2 separate regions of the Homo sapiens genome follow, and region 1 is linked to region 2. The links come from fine-mapping of genetic effects on gene expression. Tissue or cell type: whole blood. Region 2 holds a variant in brackets; the other region holds the start of a gene. All regions are shown on one strand. Distances are from middle to middle.

Region 1 (7,990 bases), 56 kb before region 2:
TAAAAATAGAAAAATTACCAGGGGGTTGGGGAGGGGGGGTGGCGGGCACCTATAATCCCAGCTACTCAGGAGGCTGAGGCAGGAGAATTGCTTGAACTTGGGAGGTAGAGGTTGCAGTGCGTGAAGATTGCTCCACTGCACTCCAGCCTGGGCAACAGAGCAAGACTCCATCTCAAAAAATAAAATTAAATTAAATTAAAATAGCTAAGTGCGGTGGCTCACATCTGTAATCCTAGCACTTTAGGAGCCCAAGGCAGGCAGATCACTTGAGATCAGGAGTTTGAAACCAGCCTGGCCAACAAGGTGAAACCCTGTCTCTACTAAAAAAAAATACAGGCCAGGCGTGGTGGCTCACGCCTGTAATCCCAACAGTTTGGGAGGCCAAGGAGGGCAGATCACAAGGTCAAGAAATTGAGACCATCCTGGCCAACATGGTGAAACCCCGTCTCTGTTAAAAATACAAAAATTAGCTGGGCGTGGTGGTGCACACCTGTAATCCCAGCTACTCAGGAGGCTGAGGTGGGAGAATCGCTTGAACCTGGGAGGTGGAAGTTGCAGTGAGCTGAGATCATACCACTGCACTCTAGCCTGGGCGACAGAGCGAGACTCTGTCTCAAGAGTCTCAAGTTATTTAAAAAATAAATAAATAAATAAAATTATTAGCCCTATGTGTCAGCAGTCTTAAATGAGTATCAAAGGACAGTATCATCCCAGCTAAATTGATTAAGCACCTTTTATACACCGGGCATTACACTAGGCAGTGGAAATGTAAAGAAGATTAAGGTAAGACCCTGCCCTCAAGTCGCACAACTTACACACAACTTAGCACAACTAACAAGAAAGACTTTTCCCTTTTCCGCTGGAGCTCTGTTTGGCAGGTCAAAGCTTTGGAAAACCAATGGAGTGGATTTTTTCCTGAATATCCATAATTATCCTATTCAGAGACAAGGAAATTAATGACATCAACTGCTTTTCTAAGCAGCAGTCTGAGCAGTTTCTGCCTTTGTCCCTAGAAAAAGTACCAGGCAGAAGGAAACTCTGCTAATTCAATTAGATGTGAAGAACTAACCTATGAGAAAGTGATCATTCAGTGCTGTAGGAGTGCTACATGGAGGAGAGTAGTATTCAAAGACAAAATGCTTAGAGAAGGATGTGTAGTTCATTATTTGAGTCAGCTGATTGTGTTGACATTTTCTTAGGGGTGGGTGGGTGGGGAGTGAAAATCTGGAAAGAGAAGGCATTTCATTTAGAACACATTGTATTTTTTCTTGTGAATATAAGATGAAAATCTTTTATTCAATAGCAATACAGGTCTCGCATAAATGAAGTTCTAATTTTCATAACAGTTGTTAAGTTCTCTGTAAATCTGACAGTCACTTAATACCAACTTTAAAATGGACATTGTTAAGTATGATTCAGTGAGGTCTTCAGGTATAATAATAGGCTATAACCAAAACTTCCTATTAAGCAGAGGCAAACTCTGCCGGGTGTGGTGGCTCACACCGATAAGCCCAGCACTTTGGGAAGCTGAGGCAGGTGGATCGCTTTTTTTGTTTGTTTTTTGAGACAGAGTCTCGCTTTGTCGCTCAAGCTGGAGTGCAGTGGCGCGATCTCGGCTCACTGCAGGCTCCGCCTCCTGGTTTCACGCCATTCTCCTGCCTCAGCCTCCTGAGTAGCTGGCAATACAGACGCCCGCACACCACGCCCGGCTAATTTTTTGTATTTTCAGTAGAGACAGGGTTTCACCGTGTTAGCCAGGATGGTCTCAATCTCCTGATCTCGTGATCCGCCCACCTTGGCCTCCCAAAGTGCTGGGATTACAGGCGTGAGCCACCGCGCCCGGCCTAACTTGTATTTTTAGTAGAGACGGGGGTTCCACCACGTTGGCCAGGCTGGTCTCGAACTCCTGACCTCACGTGATCCATCTGCCTCGGCCTCCCAAATTGCTGAGATTACAGGTGTGAGCCACTGCGCCTGGCCGGTATGTGTTTTTTTAATCCCTAAAGCTTGGTAGTTTAATATTAAATTCAAATTACTGTAGCCTAGGACTCTTTTGAAAAATACTTGACAGCTTCGTTTTTGACCTATCTCATTAGGCTGAGTTCTCTTTTATCTTTACAATACAGATGTTTAAAATTAAAATACAGATCGGCCGGGCGCGGTGGCTCACGCCTGTAATCCCAGCACTTTGGGAGGCCGAGACGAGCGGATCACGAGGTCAGGAGATCCAGACCATCCTGTCTAACACGGTGTAAACCTCGTCTCTAATAACAATACAAAAAAAATTAGCCGGGCGTGATGGCGGGCGCCTCTAGTCCCAGCTACTCCGGAGACTGAGGCAGGAGAATGTTGTGAACCCGGGAGGCGGGCTTGCAGCGAGCCGACATCGCGCCACTGCACTCCAGCCTGGGCTACAGAGCAAGACTCCGTCTCAAAAAAAAGAAAAAAGAAAATTAAAATACAGATCTAGATCTGGATTTTGTTAGGTTTTTTTTTTTTTTAACAACCTAAGGTTGTTCAGAAACATCTATTCTATGTATGTGCTTCTTTAGTCTGTAATTTCTAGGCAGATTAGTTGCACCCTGTCTAGACTCCTTTCAGAAAAATACTAACAATATGTTTTTCTCTGTCTTGGGCTCCACATGGGTGAATTACAGGAAAGCTTAACAGGTACTCAGAGCAACATTTTTTCCTACTTCATGAAGGGCCTAAATGCGAACTCTTAAGTATTTCTCGTTTGCTTTTGTTCTTTTCCCAGGTTTACCTAATCTGTAAGTGTAAGATGCAGTCGATGAAAAGTACTATGGGAATTCTTGAGCAAATCAGACCATTCAAAAGGAAACCACTTCACGTAATGGTGCATAAGGAAGCTAGACTCACCAAAATAACCCTGTTAGGTAAGCCGGATACACCATGGAATACGGCAATCCTCTGTTTAATTTGCAAACCCTTTGGCGGGGAGGAGGAAAGGATGGAAAAATTTGGGTGAAGGCTTTATATGACTAGTCAAACAAACGGTGAGTCATTGAAATTTTCCAGTTAACAATCCCTTCTGCCTGGGCAGAGCCTGGGCCCCAGCGCTTTATGAGCCACACTGCAGTTTTAAGCCGGAATATCTCACGGTTTTATTGTTTCTTCCACGAAATGATTACATAAAATGAAATCAGCTTTGCAATCTGCACCGGCTTTGAAATGAAGGGCAAAATCTGGCTGGGGGTGAGGAGAAAGAAGGTGGAGAGAGAATAAGGTACGGAGACTGTGAGGCAGAGAACGCAGGAAAGGTGGTGAAAAGAGAGTACAAGAATTTTCGGGAGCTGAGTGTATTTTTCTTCCCCATGTTATAGATGCTGTCCGTTTTCCCCCAGCCTGTGTCCAGCAGGCCAGAGTGGACCCCTCCTATGGGCTAAAATACTCTCGGTCTTCGGCCCAGCACAGAGCTGCACCAACCAGGGCCTGCCGCTGCCCCCCCACCAGGTGACAGGTGGGGCCGCCGAGCGGCCACCAGACCTCCGCCTCCTCGCGTTGCCTGCCGGGAGCCGGAGCCGCTTCCGGTTGCGCCCTGTCCCTGAACTTCGACTCCCGTCGGCCCCCGGGAAAACCGCAGCGGGGTAGCGCGGGCGCTGCCGGAACTTGTAGTTCCACCTCCCGCCGCGCTAAATAGCCGGAAACGGGGGCGGCCAGAACAGAGAACTACCGAGGCGAAGGTACGGGTGGCGGCGAGGGGTCAATCCGCGCCGGGGGTGGGGTTGGCTGTGAGGCCGTCGGAGGTGGTTGGGTGGGAGGAGATCCGCTCACACACACGAGGAGGAGGGTTGAGCTGCCGCCGCCGCCGCCTCTGTCGTCGTCGCGAGTGTGGAGTCGGGACTGGAGCTGCTGCCGCGGCGACGCCGGGGATCTTTGTCGCTAGCTCCCGGCCCTTCTGCCCCGCCGCCTTCCCTCAGTCAGCGTTGCCCACTCCTCTCCGGCCGGGCGCCCCTGCCTCCATTTCCCGCTCTCTGTCCACCACACACACGGCCCCCCCGATCATGGATCCGGGCAGTGGCGGCGGCGGCGGCGGCGGCGGCGGCGGCGGGAGCAGCAGCGGCAGCAGCAGCAGCGACTCGGCGCCTGACTGCTGGGACCAGGCGGACATGGAAGCCCCCGGGCCGGGCCCTTGCGGCGGCGGCGGCTCCCTGGCGGCGGCGGCCGAGGCCCAGCGGGAGAACCTCAGCGCGGCCTTCAGCCGGCAACTCAACGTCAACGCCAAGCCCTTCGTGCCCAACGTCCACGCCGCCGAGTTCGTGCCGTCCTTCCTGCGGGGCCCGGCAGCGCCGCCACCCCCAGTTGGCGGCGCCGCCAATAACCACGGAGCCGGCAGCGGCGCGGGAGGCCGTGCGGGTAAAGGCCCGGGACGCGGGAGGAAGTCCGGCCGGGCGCCGGAGCCCACATGGCGTAGGGGTGCGGTCCGGGGGCGCGCGGCCCTGGGGCCCGGTCGGCACGTGGGGCGCTGACAGTGGCGCCGTCTGCCTGGGTGGGGCGCCCCGAGCCCGGGAGCCGGCCTTCGCGGGGCGGCCCGCGGCGGTGGCCGGGCGGGGAGCGGACAGCGGGCAGCGCGCCCAAAGACCCGGACCCGAGTGCCGCCCCTCCGCGCCCCTGCCCTGCTCTGGAGTCCGCAGTTACCCACTTGAGATGGGAACCGTATGGAACGGAGTGGGGGCCGCGGCGGATCCCTGCCACGAGGCGCAGAATGAGGACAGATGGAGCCAGGAGTCATTTGGGTGGGCGTTTAGAGATCCCAGGAGTTGGGGAGGACGAATGGCCGAGTTTTCCTTTCACCTTAGGCCCAGCCGAGAGAGCGTCTTCTGCTGCGTTTTCTACTATTGAAACTGTAATTACGGTTTAAACTGTCCGTGGCCCCCAACCGTCCTGAAGGAATCCCAAGATGCATTGCAGCCTTGTGATCGGGCAGAAACTTGGCTATCAATACCAAGATCTGTTTTACCCTTAGCATTGTGTACGCTTCTAAAGTTTACAAAGTGCCACAAAGTTAGGATTCCTCACTTAATGTGTGATAGGAGACTATATTGATTTGTGTCTTTTTAAAGTGAAGCTTACACTTTTATCCTTTGTCAGCGACACGTTTAGAGAATTTTCATTGCTGTAAAATCGTTGACCTTATTCAGATTGCTTGGAATAACTCACTGTGTTCGTGCATCAGTAGTTCAGTCTATTTCTTCAGACACTTGAGCATTTGTTATAATTTAATAGTTCTCACGTGTCTTTCTGACCGTAGCTAGTAGACATACATTTTCTAATCCATAAAATTTCGAGTTAACTTTGGTTTTTAAACATCTTCCCGTACTTAGGGGTTGCTTAAGTCGTAGGTAGCATGCTTGCAGGTGCTGACGTTGTAGGAATATCCGGTGAGTGAACTTATGTATTCTCATAATGGTGCTTATTTTGTGGTAGGTAGCTTGCTTTCAGGTACTGATTTTGTGGGAATGTCAAATGAGTGAACTTAAGTATTCTCTTCCTAATGGTGCTTATTTTAGGAACTATCAGTGTTTCCTTAAAGAGAAAATGAAAAAGGAAGGAAAAGGCTGAACGTCCTTTCATCATTTAGCCAGGACGTTAGTGGGGTGGGTCATGACATCCAGCGCATTTTAAGTGAGAACATATTGTTGATTTCTCTCTTTAAAGTTCTGTATTGTGGTGGTTCTTAGATAAGTGGACATTATAAAAGTGCTCCAGGAGTTTGGTTTCTACAGAAACTTTTGTCACCGTTTGCTCTTTCGTGGTAAAGGGATAGTGTCTGGAGAAACACTCTGATGACGTATGTACGTCAGCACGGTTGATTTGGTGGTTTTGTTGACAGTGGCATTTATTTGTGTGGGTGGTTGATGTTTTCTTTTGAGGAGATCGAGCACTTTCAGGGTGGTACGGCTCTAGACAATGTTTTCCTCTTGAATAAGGAAGCTTAGCTTGTAATTCTTGACTTACATCAAGCCATTTTGACTGCCTAACCTAGTTCACTTCTCAGCTCCTAAAAGTGCCCATTCCCTACCTTACTTTGCAGATTCCGTTTATCCAGCCATTTTCTTTCTTGGCTCTTCCTCCTTTCTGTGGAGCCACCAGCACCACTCTGACTAGACTCAGGACTCCATTTACAGCCTGTCCAGCGAGTCATCCGGGGATAACCAACCTTGGTCTAGAATGGTCACTGTTGGTGACTAGGTATTACCTCTTATGCGGGCTTTCTCTCTTCCTGATAGTTGCTAATTTGTAGTTACACCTAATCTTTTTCTCTTTGACAGTGCTAGAAATTGGAGATGCGAAAACCTGTAGGGAAGTAGCTGTCAGTAAGAGAATCCGTACAGCATGGTCAACTTTCTTGTTTTTAATCAAAAAACTATTTTGGTGTTACCGACTTTACCAATTGCTTGTACCAAAATGCCAGTTCATGTTTTTAAAAAATTATCCTATGTAGGATGTCTATTTGGAAAAGAACTGATTTTCTAAGTTGAGGTCCAGGGTTATATTGAGACTGTTGGATTGCATGTTCCAGACTATTAAGTCCATAAAAAGCCAGCATCGGAGAACAATCAGTGCTTATAAAAAGCAGGGGGATAAATAGGAAATAACACCTGGATTGGAACTTACAAAGGGGGAACCAAAAAGTTTGCAAGGTTTTTTTGATAGCGAGGAAGTGGACAATAGGGCTAGCATGTTCTGTTCTTTAGTTAAGCCATAGCCGAAATTTGTGCTGGGTGTGTTTTTAAACTGCATGCCGGGAAAGCTGTTGAAGGAGCCTGGAGAGTCAGACCTTGGGATTCAGTATTGACCTTGGATCTCTTTGAAAACTAAAGAATATAGGTTCCTTAAGAAATAATTAAGTGGAACCCATTTAAGTGTAATTAAGTGTAATTCATTTAAGCACAGTTCTCTAGAGCCAAGTAAATTGGCCAAGAGATTCTCCTTAAAAAGTGAGGTCCCCAAGTGAATAAAAATATAGAAGACAAGGCTTAATGTATATTAGAACAAGCATTTTATCTGATAGGATGTATTTAAGTTGCAATTTGCACCTAGTTTTTTTTATTGTTAGATAAGAAACTGGTTTAGTAATTTTAGGGTTACTTGAACTTTTTAGAACAGCCAGAGCTTCTAAAGTAATGATGTGGTGTTCTTTGCATCATCCCACCTTTAATGCTTCTCAGAACTCACTGCCATTAAGAAACAAGCATGGAATAAAACCAGCAGCCCTCAGTACTTACTTGGAGGAGGCACTGTCTCCAAAACTTAGCAGATTGTATTGTGGAACTTGAATTTTAAAGAGAAACATTCTGTTTTGTAGTGTTCCGTATTTGCTGAATGCCTTATTTATTGGAAGAGGAGGTTTTTTTTTTGTTTTTTTTTTTTTTTGAGACGGAGTCTTGCTCTGTTGCCCAGGCTGGAGTGCAATGGCACGATCTCGGCTGACTACAACCTCCTCCTCCCAGGTTCAAGCAATTCTCCTGCCTCAGCCTCCCGAGTAGCTGGGATTACAGGCACCTGCCATCATGCCCAGCTATTTTGTGTGTGTGTGTTTTTGCAGGGATGGGGTTTCACCATGTTGGCTAGGCTGGTCTTGAACTCTTGACCTCAGGTGATCTGCCCGCCTTGGCCTCCCAAAGTGCCGGGATTACAGGTGTGACCGCGCCTGGCCTTTTTTTTTTTTTTTTTTAAATGATTGACATTTAACTTACACACTGTAAAATTCACCCTTTTCAACTGTACAAGCTGGGCGCATTGGCTCACACTTATAAACCCAACACTCTGGGAGGCTGAGGTGAGAGGATTGCCTGAGGCCTCCATAAAACATAGTGAGACTGAGACCCTGTCTCCACAAAAAAAAAAAAAAAAAAAAAAAAAAAAATACAGCTGGGTGCAGTGGCTCATGCCTGTAATCCCAGCACTTTGGGAGGCCGAGGTGGACGGATCACCTGAGGTCAGGAGTTCGAGACCAGCCTGGCCA
Region 2 (7,990 bases):
GAGGCTCCATCTCAAAAAAAAAAAAAAAAAACTTTCCTAGTTTGAACAAAGATGCACTTTGAGTTGTCATAACATTTACCAGTTATATACTGGTACTGGTTAAAAGAACACAGTCCTGCAAGTTGTCAGCTGGTTCGCGTCAATGATAAAAAGAGACTAATGGCATCCCTTTCAGCAAAGGGCAGGAGAAGAGAACTAACCTTGTGCTATTTAACCTATTTTTTTTAAATGTAGAAATCACTTCTAAGAGTGGCCTTAATATTCCATTCCTGGCCGGGCGCGGTGGCTCACGCCTGTAATCCCAGCACTTTGGGAGGCCGAGGCGGGTGGATCACAAGGTGAGGAGATCGAGACCATCCTGGCTAACACGGTGAAACCCCGTCTCTACTAAATATACGAAAAAAAAAAAATTAGCCGAGCATAGTGGCGGGCACCTGTATTCCCAGCTACTTGGGAGGTTGAGGCAGGAGAATGGCGTGAACCCAGCAGGCAGAGCTTGCAGTGAGCCGAGACTGCGCCACTGCGCTCCAGCCTGGGCGACAGAGTGAGACTCCGTCTCAAAAAAAAAAAAAAAAAGCCTGTTTGTTAATCATGTATTAAGTGGGGTTGGTGTACACTATGATACCTAGCAGCAAAATGGTGTACTTGTGATACCCACATAGATTGTATGAGGACAAAGAGTTAAAAATAAACAGCAAACCTAAGTTAATAAAGTCAGGTTTTCTACAGAAAACCTCTTTACATTTCTTTCTCTGGCAATATCATATTTCTCTTGTTTCTCTTCCCCAGCCTTCCACCCCCTCGCCCCCAAATCAGAATCAAATATCAGTTTCTTTACTGATTGGCTATTTCTTCCCTGCTTGAATGCAGTTAAGCTCTTTTGGCCCCTAAGATGAACAATTTCATTTTCCAATCCATTTAATAATGATTGTATTATTTTCAGCAAAGGGAAGAAGAGAACTAACCTTGTGCTATCATGAACATGACAGACACTGTGAAGATAGATTCTCTTAAATCCGAGGGAACCAGCTTCATTTAACAGATGAAGACATTGAGGCTTGGGAGATTAAGCCACCTTGCCCAAGGCTAAACAATTAGTAAATCATGGAGTTGGGATTCAGACTGATCTTTCTGACCCAAAACACCATGTCCTTTGTACCTTCCTTAAAATGTCACATTCTACATTTGGGCAATATTGTTTTACCTTTGATTCAATTATGTTTAGGTTAATATTACTTAGCAGATTTCAGTACCAAGAATATGCTGAGTATTAAATTGCTTTCAGATAATCCAGACATCACCAATTGACTATGTGGCGTTTCTTTTGTTAGTTGGCCATGTGTTACCACTGATTTAATAGTGCTATATAAAAAACGATGTCTAATAGTTTTCTAAGGTTACTAGTTGATTGTAATATTTATTTTGAACTAGAATATGAGTTCCATTATTAAGGGTGAAGTTTCTTAAACTTTATGTTTAGCATTCAGCAACATATTCGAATGTTCTTTACAATTAGTTGATTTACCAAATCCCTAATAAAATTAACTTTATGTACCTCCAAAAAAGATTTTCAAGAAGTTTGAAGAGAGATATCTCAGTACTTTCCAAGAGAAACAACTTAATAGTATTCATGGTATCAGTGAGACCTGGGTACTCGAATGTTGAAATTAATTACATTGGTTTTTGTAGAAATGAGGATTCACTATGTTATCCAGACTAGTCTAGAACTCCTGGCCTCAAGCAATCCTCCTTCCTCAGCCTCCCAAAGTGCTGGGATTACAGGTGTGAGCCACCACGCCTGGCCTATTTATTTATTTTTTAATTTTTTCACCCTGTCTTGTGGTGCTGACAATATGGTCTTTTATTATTATGTATTCTTCTCACCTTCAATATTTAACAGTGTTAACACATCTTCAGATATCTCCACTCCCTCATGGCTTCTGTAACTTGGCACCCTCTTGGTTTGCATTCTTTTTTTTTTTTTTTTTGAGATGGAGTCTCGATCTGTCGCCCAGGCTGGAGTGGGAGTGCAGTGGCGCAATCTCAGCTCACTGCAACCTCTGCCTCCCGTGTTCAAGCCATTCTCCTGCCTCAGCCTCCTGAGTAGCTGGGACTACAGGCGCGTGCCACCATCCCCGGCTAATTTTTTGTATTTTTAGTAGAGACAGGGTTTCGTCGTGTTAGCCAGGATGATCTCAATCTCCTGACCTCGTGATCTGCCCACCTTGGCCTCCCAGAGTGCTGGGATTACAGGCCTGAGCCACTGCGCCCGGCCTTCATTCTTTCTTTCTTTTTTTTTTTGAGACAAAGTCTTGCTCTGTTGCCTAGGCTGGAGTGCAGCGGCGCAATCATGGCTCAATGTAGCGTCAACCCCCTGGGCTCAAGCAATCCTCCCATTTCAGCATCACGAGTATTTGGGACACAGGCATATGCCACCGTACCCATCTAATTTTTCTATTTTTTGTAGAGACAGGATCTCATTATGTTGCCCAGGGCAGTCTTGAACTCCTGAGCTCAAGTAATCCGGCTGCATCAGCCTCCTAAATTGGTTTTCTTTTACATCTTCAACTATTTCTCTGTTTCCTCCTTGTTTGTTATTGAAGGTTTCTTTACAACTCTATTATTCGTCTAGACTTTTTTTTTGCAATCTCACCTATTAACAAAGCTTTAATCATCACCTCCATGAAAATGACTTCTAATTTCCTTCTTTTTAGTTCAGGAATATTCTCTTCCACATTCCAGATCCATTTAGATGTACCATTGGAACTTCAAACTCAAAATACAGTCATGGGTTGCTTAATGAGGATACATCCTTAGACATGCGTCTTTGGATGACTTTATAGTTGTGGGAATATCGGTGTACTCACACAAACCTAAATGGTATGGCTTGCTACACACCTATGCTATGTGATACAGCCTATTGCTCCTGGGCTACAAACCTGTACAGCATGTTACTGTACTAAATACTGTAGGCAACTGTATCTAAAATATACAGCAAAAATACAGTATAAAACATTAAAAATGGCACACCTGTATAGGGCACTTATCATGAATGGCGCTTGCAGGACTGGAAGTTGCTCTGGGTGAATAAGTGAGTGAATGCGAAGGCCTAGGACATTACTGTACACCACTATAGACTTACAAACACTGTACACTTACGTACACTAGATTTATTTTTCTTTTTTTTTTGAGACAGGGGTCTCACTATATTGTCTAGACTGAACTTGAACTCCCAGGCTCAAGCGATCCTCCTGCCTCAGCCTCCTGAGTAGTTACGACAACAGGCACACACCACTGAGCCTGGCTTTAAAAATTTTTTCTTTCTTCAATAATAAATTAACCTTGGCTTACTGTAACATTTTTACTTTATAAACTTACATTTTTAACTTTGTGACTCTTTTGTAGTTAACACTTTGCTTAAAACACAAACACTTTGTACAGCTGCACAAAAATATTTTTCTTTATATCCTTACTCTGTAAGCTTTTCTCTATTTTTGAAATTTTTAATTTTTTTTTCCTTTTTTTTCTTTATTGAGACGGAGTCTCACTCTATCGCCCAGGCTGGAGTGCAGTGGCGCAATCTCTGCTCACTGCAACCTCCACCTCCCGGGTTCAAGCGATTCTCCTGCTTCAGCCTCCCAAGTAGCTGGGCTACAGGTGCATGCCACCACACCCGGCTAATTTTTTTATTTTTATTTTTAGTAGAGACGGGGTTTCACCATATTAGCCAGGATGGTCTCAATCTCCTGACCTCGTGATCCACCCGCCTCAGCCTCCCAAAGTGCTGGGATTACAGGCGTGATCCATGCCCGGCCTTTTTTTCGTTTTTAAACTTTTTTTTTTTAGATGGAATCTCGCTCTGTCACCCAGGCTGGAGTGCAATGGGGTGATCTCGGCTTGCTGCAACCTCCGCCTCCCGGGTTCAAGCTATTCTCCTGCCTCAGCCTCCCCAGTAGCTGGGATTACAGGCACCTGCCACTACTCCCGGCTAAGTTTTGTATTTTTAGTAGAGATGGGGTTTCATCATGTTGGCCAGACTGGTCTCGGAACTCCTGACCTTAGGTGATCTGCCCGCCTCAGCCTCCCAAAGTGCTGGGATTACAGGTGTGAGCCACCGCACCTGCCCCTTTTAAAGCGTTTTTA[T/C]TAAAAATGAAAGGCTGGGCGCAGTAGTTCACGCCTGTAATCCCAGCATTTTGAGAGGCGGAGGTGGGCAGATCACGAGGTCAGGAGATTGAGACCATCCCAGCTAACACAGTGAAACCCTGTCTCCACTAAAAATACAAAAATTAGCCAGGCGTGGTAGCATGTGCCTGTAATCCCAGCTACGCAGGAGGCTGAAGCAGGAGAATCGCTTGAACCCGGGAGGTGGAGGTTGCAGTGAGCCAAGATCGCTCCATTACACTCCAGCCTGGGCCACAGAGCAAGACTCTGTCTCAAAAAAAAAAAAAAAAAAAAAAAAAAAAAAGTAAACACAGGCTGGGCACAGTGGCTCACACCTGTAATCCCAGCACTTTGGGAGGTCGAGGCGGTAGGATCGCTTGAGCCCAGGAGTTTGAGACCAGCCTGGGCAACAGAGCGAGAACTTGTCTCTACTAAAAAAGAAAGAAAAGAAAGAAAGAAGGCGGGCGGTGGGAGGGGGGGGGTTGGCGGAGAGAGAGAGAGAAAGCAAGCTAAAATAAAATAAAATAAAATAAAATAAAAAGAAGACACAAACACACACCTAGGCCTATGACTACACAGAGTCAGGATCATCAATATCAACTGTCTTCTACTTCCACATCTTATCTGTCCCATTAGAAGGTGTTCAAGGACACTGACACTGACACATGGAGTTGTCATCTCCTATGGTAACAATGCCTTCTTCTGGAATATCTCCTGAAGGACCTCTCTGAGGCTGTTTTACAGTTAACTTTTTTTTTATAAGTAGAAGGGATACACTCTAAAATAACTATAAAAAGTATAGTATAGGCCGGGTGTGGTGGCTCACGCCTGTAATCCCAGCACCTCGGGAGTCTGAGGCAGGCAGATCACCTGAGGCCAGGAGTTCAAGACCAGCCTGGCCAACATGGCGAAACTCCATCTCTATTAAAAATACAAAAATTAGCTGGGTATGGCAGCAGACGCCTGTAATCCCAGCTACTCGGGAGGCTGAGGCAGGAGAATCGCTTGAGCCCAGGAGGTGGAAGTTGCAGTGAGCTGAGATTGTGCCACTGCACTCCACCTTGGGTGACAGAGTGAGACTCTGTCTCAAAAAAAAAAAAAAAAAAAAAAAAAAGTACAGTATAGCAGGGCATGGTGGCTCACCCCTGTAATCTCATGCCCAACACTTCAGGAGGCTAAGGCAGGAGGACCACTTGAGCTCAGGAGTTCAAGAACAGCCTGGGCAATGTAGTAAGATCCCATCCCTAAAAAAAAAAATACAGTATAGTACATACATAAACCAGTAACATAGTTGTTTATTATTATCAAGTAATTATGTACTGTACATAATTATATTTGCCATACTTGGGGGCAGTGCAGGTTTGTTTATACCAGCATCACCACAAACGTGAGGAATGCGCTGACATTATGATGGCTATGACATCACTAGGTGACAGGAATTTTTCAGCTCCATTATGATCTTACGTGACCATGTATGTGGGTCTGTTGTTGAAAGAAACATCATTATGTGGTACAGCACTCTACTGAAAAGGAATCTTATGTTTTCCCTCTAAATCTGCTGCTCCTCCTTTCTTCCCCAGTTCTATTAATACCACCCATTTGCCCAGCTTTTCAGGCTCTTAGAATTAGGGAGTAATCTACATTTCTCTCCTTCTATGTCCAAGCTCAGGTCAAGCAGTATAAGTACCCTGTCCTCACTATCACCCTACCATCAGATCTTGATACCACAATAGTTTCCTATGTTCATCCCCTTAAGCCCTGTCTCAGGCCATTCTAATGCATTATTCATTCTAAAGAAATACTATTTATGTCACTTATAATAAATAAATAAGGAAAAATAGTGAAGATACCATTTGTAGTTTTCCTACCATTAACTGGCTCTCTTCTACCCTCTCAAAGCTTATCGTCAAATGGGGGAGAGCCAATTATAGTAGGAAAACTATAAATATTTTGGGGTAAAAGGACAGGATTATCTAAGCTACAATTCTCCAGAAGTAATCTGAAGCAGAAATTAGAAGGATGAGTTAATATATGTGGGGATGGGATATGGAGGTACAAGGTGATAGTGTTCCAGGAAGAAGTGACAGTACATTGGAAGGTATGAAGAAAAGTAGAACCTGCAGAGTTGAAACTAGGACTTAAAGATTGAAGGGTTGAGTGGCAGGGTATGAAGTTAGAGAGATAAAAAGAAAGGGACCAGATGAAGAGTGCCTACCATGTTGAGAGTGACCATGTTACTTATCTTTTAAAAATTTTTACTTATTTTTTTTTAGACAGGGTCTCACTCTGTCACCCAAGCTGGAGTACAGTAGCACAAGCATAGCTAACTGCAGCTTTGAACTCCTAAGCTCAAGAAATCCTACCTCGGCCTCCCAAAGTGCTAGGATTACAGGCATGAGTCACCATGCCCAGTCCATATGATTTATCTTTCAAACTGCAACACTATTTTCTTGGACAAATACTAAACTACACAGGATGCCAGACAAGAGATGCAAACTGTGATACATACAAGGCAAATTAAGGAATATGCCTCATCCTAATGACAAGAATCCAATGAAGGTGATGCAGCACAGTTTGATATGATCAGATTTCAATTTTAAAAAGATTACGCCATCCGACGGGTAGAGAATGGACTGTAAGATGCAAAATTAGGCTGGAAGTGATGGCTCACACCTGTAATCCCAACACTCTGGGAGGCCTAGGTGGGAGGATCACTTGAGCCCAGGAGTTCGAGATCAGCCTGGGTAACATAGGGAGAACCCCATCTCTACAAAAAAGTTAAAAAATTAGGCGGACATGGTGGCACACACCTGTAATTTCAGCTACTTGGGAGTCTGAGGTGGGAGGATCACTTGAGTCCAGGAGGTTGAGGCTGCAGTGAGCTGTGATCACCCCACCACACTCCAGCCTGCGCGACAGAGTGAGACCTTGTCCCAAAACTAAAATAAATAAAAATAAAAGATGCAAAAGTAGATGTGGGAAGACAAGTTAAGAGGTTGTTGCAGTAATCTAAGCAAAAAACAAAAAACAAATACATGATAATGTCCTCTACCACAACGTGGCAGGAATAAAAAGAATTGGATACATGCAAGAGACATTTAAAAAGAATAAACAAGGGCTCGGTGCAGTGGCTCATGCCTGTAATCCCAGCACTTTGGAGGGCAGAGGCAGGAGAATCACTTGAGGTCAGGAGTTCAAGACCAGCCTGGCCAACACGGTGAAACCCCATCACTACTAAAAATACAAAAATTAGCGGAGCATGGTGGCACACGCTTGTAATCCCAGTTACTTGGGAGGCTGAGGCAGGAGAATTGCTTGAACCCATGAGGTGGAGGCTGCAGTGAGATGAGATTGCGCCAGTGCACTCCAGCCTGGGCTACAGAGTGAGACTCCATCTCAAAAAAAAAAAAAAAAGGAACAAGCAAGACTTTGTTATTGACTATGTTTGGGGGATGAGAAGGAAAGAGTTAAGAATAACTCTCATATTTGGCTTGGTGGTACCAATGATGGAAACAGAAAACACAAGAGGGGCCGGGAGCGGTGGTTCATGCCTGTAATCCCAGCACTTTGGGAGCCGGAGGTGGGTGGATCACTTGAGGTCAGGGGCTCGAGCCCAGCCTGGCCAACATGGTGAAACCCCGTCTCTACTAAAAATACAAAAATTTGCCAGGCACCGTGGCGCGTGCCTGTAATCCCAGCTACTCGGGAGGTTGAGGCATGAGAATCGCTTGAACCTGGGAGGGAGGGGTTGCAGTGAGCCGAGACTGTGCCACTGCACTACACTCCAGCCTGAGCGACAGAGCAAGACTCCATCTCAAAAAAAAAAAAA

Evidence for each region. PIP is the estimated chance that this variant, and not a neighbour inherited with it, causes the effect.
Region 1: it holds the start of GSPT1, and the variant in region 2 is fine-mapped to the expression of GSPT1 in whole blood (TOPMed, PIP above 0.99). The same link has a PIP of 0.9 or more in lung.

Annotation. Positions count from the first base shown.
Region 1 is chr16:11,911,756-11,919,745 of GRCh38, reverse strand. GSPT1 (G1 to S phase transition 1) reads left to right here and starts at 3,790. Exons shown (of 15, transcript NM_002094.4): 1 at 3,790-4,377. The coding sequence starts at 4,026. RefSeq lists enhancers at 1,850-2,350, 3,651-3,800, 3,409-4,346 and silencers at 3,401-3,460, 4,171-4,240, 4,331-4,570, 4,611-4,660.
Region 2 is chr16:11,855,969-11,863,958 of GRCh38, reverse strand. No RefSeq gene overlaps it. Among named protein-coding and RNA genes, the nearest start is that of RSL1D1, 8.4 kb to the right of the region's middle. The variant T/C (reference allele first, on the strand shown) is at 4,144.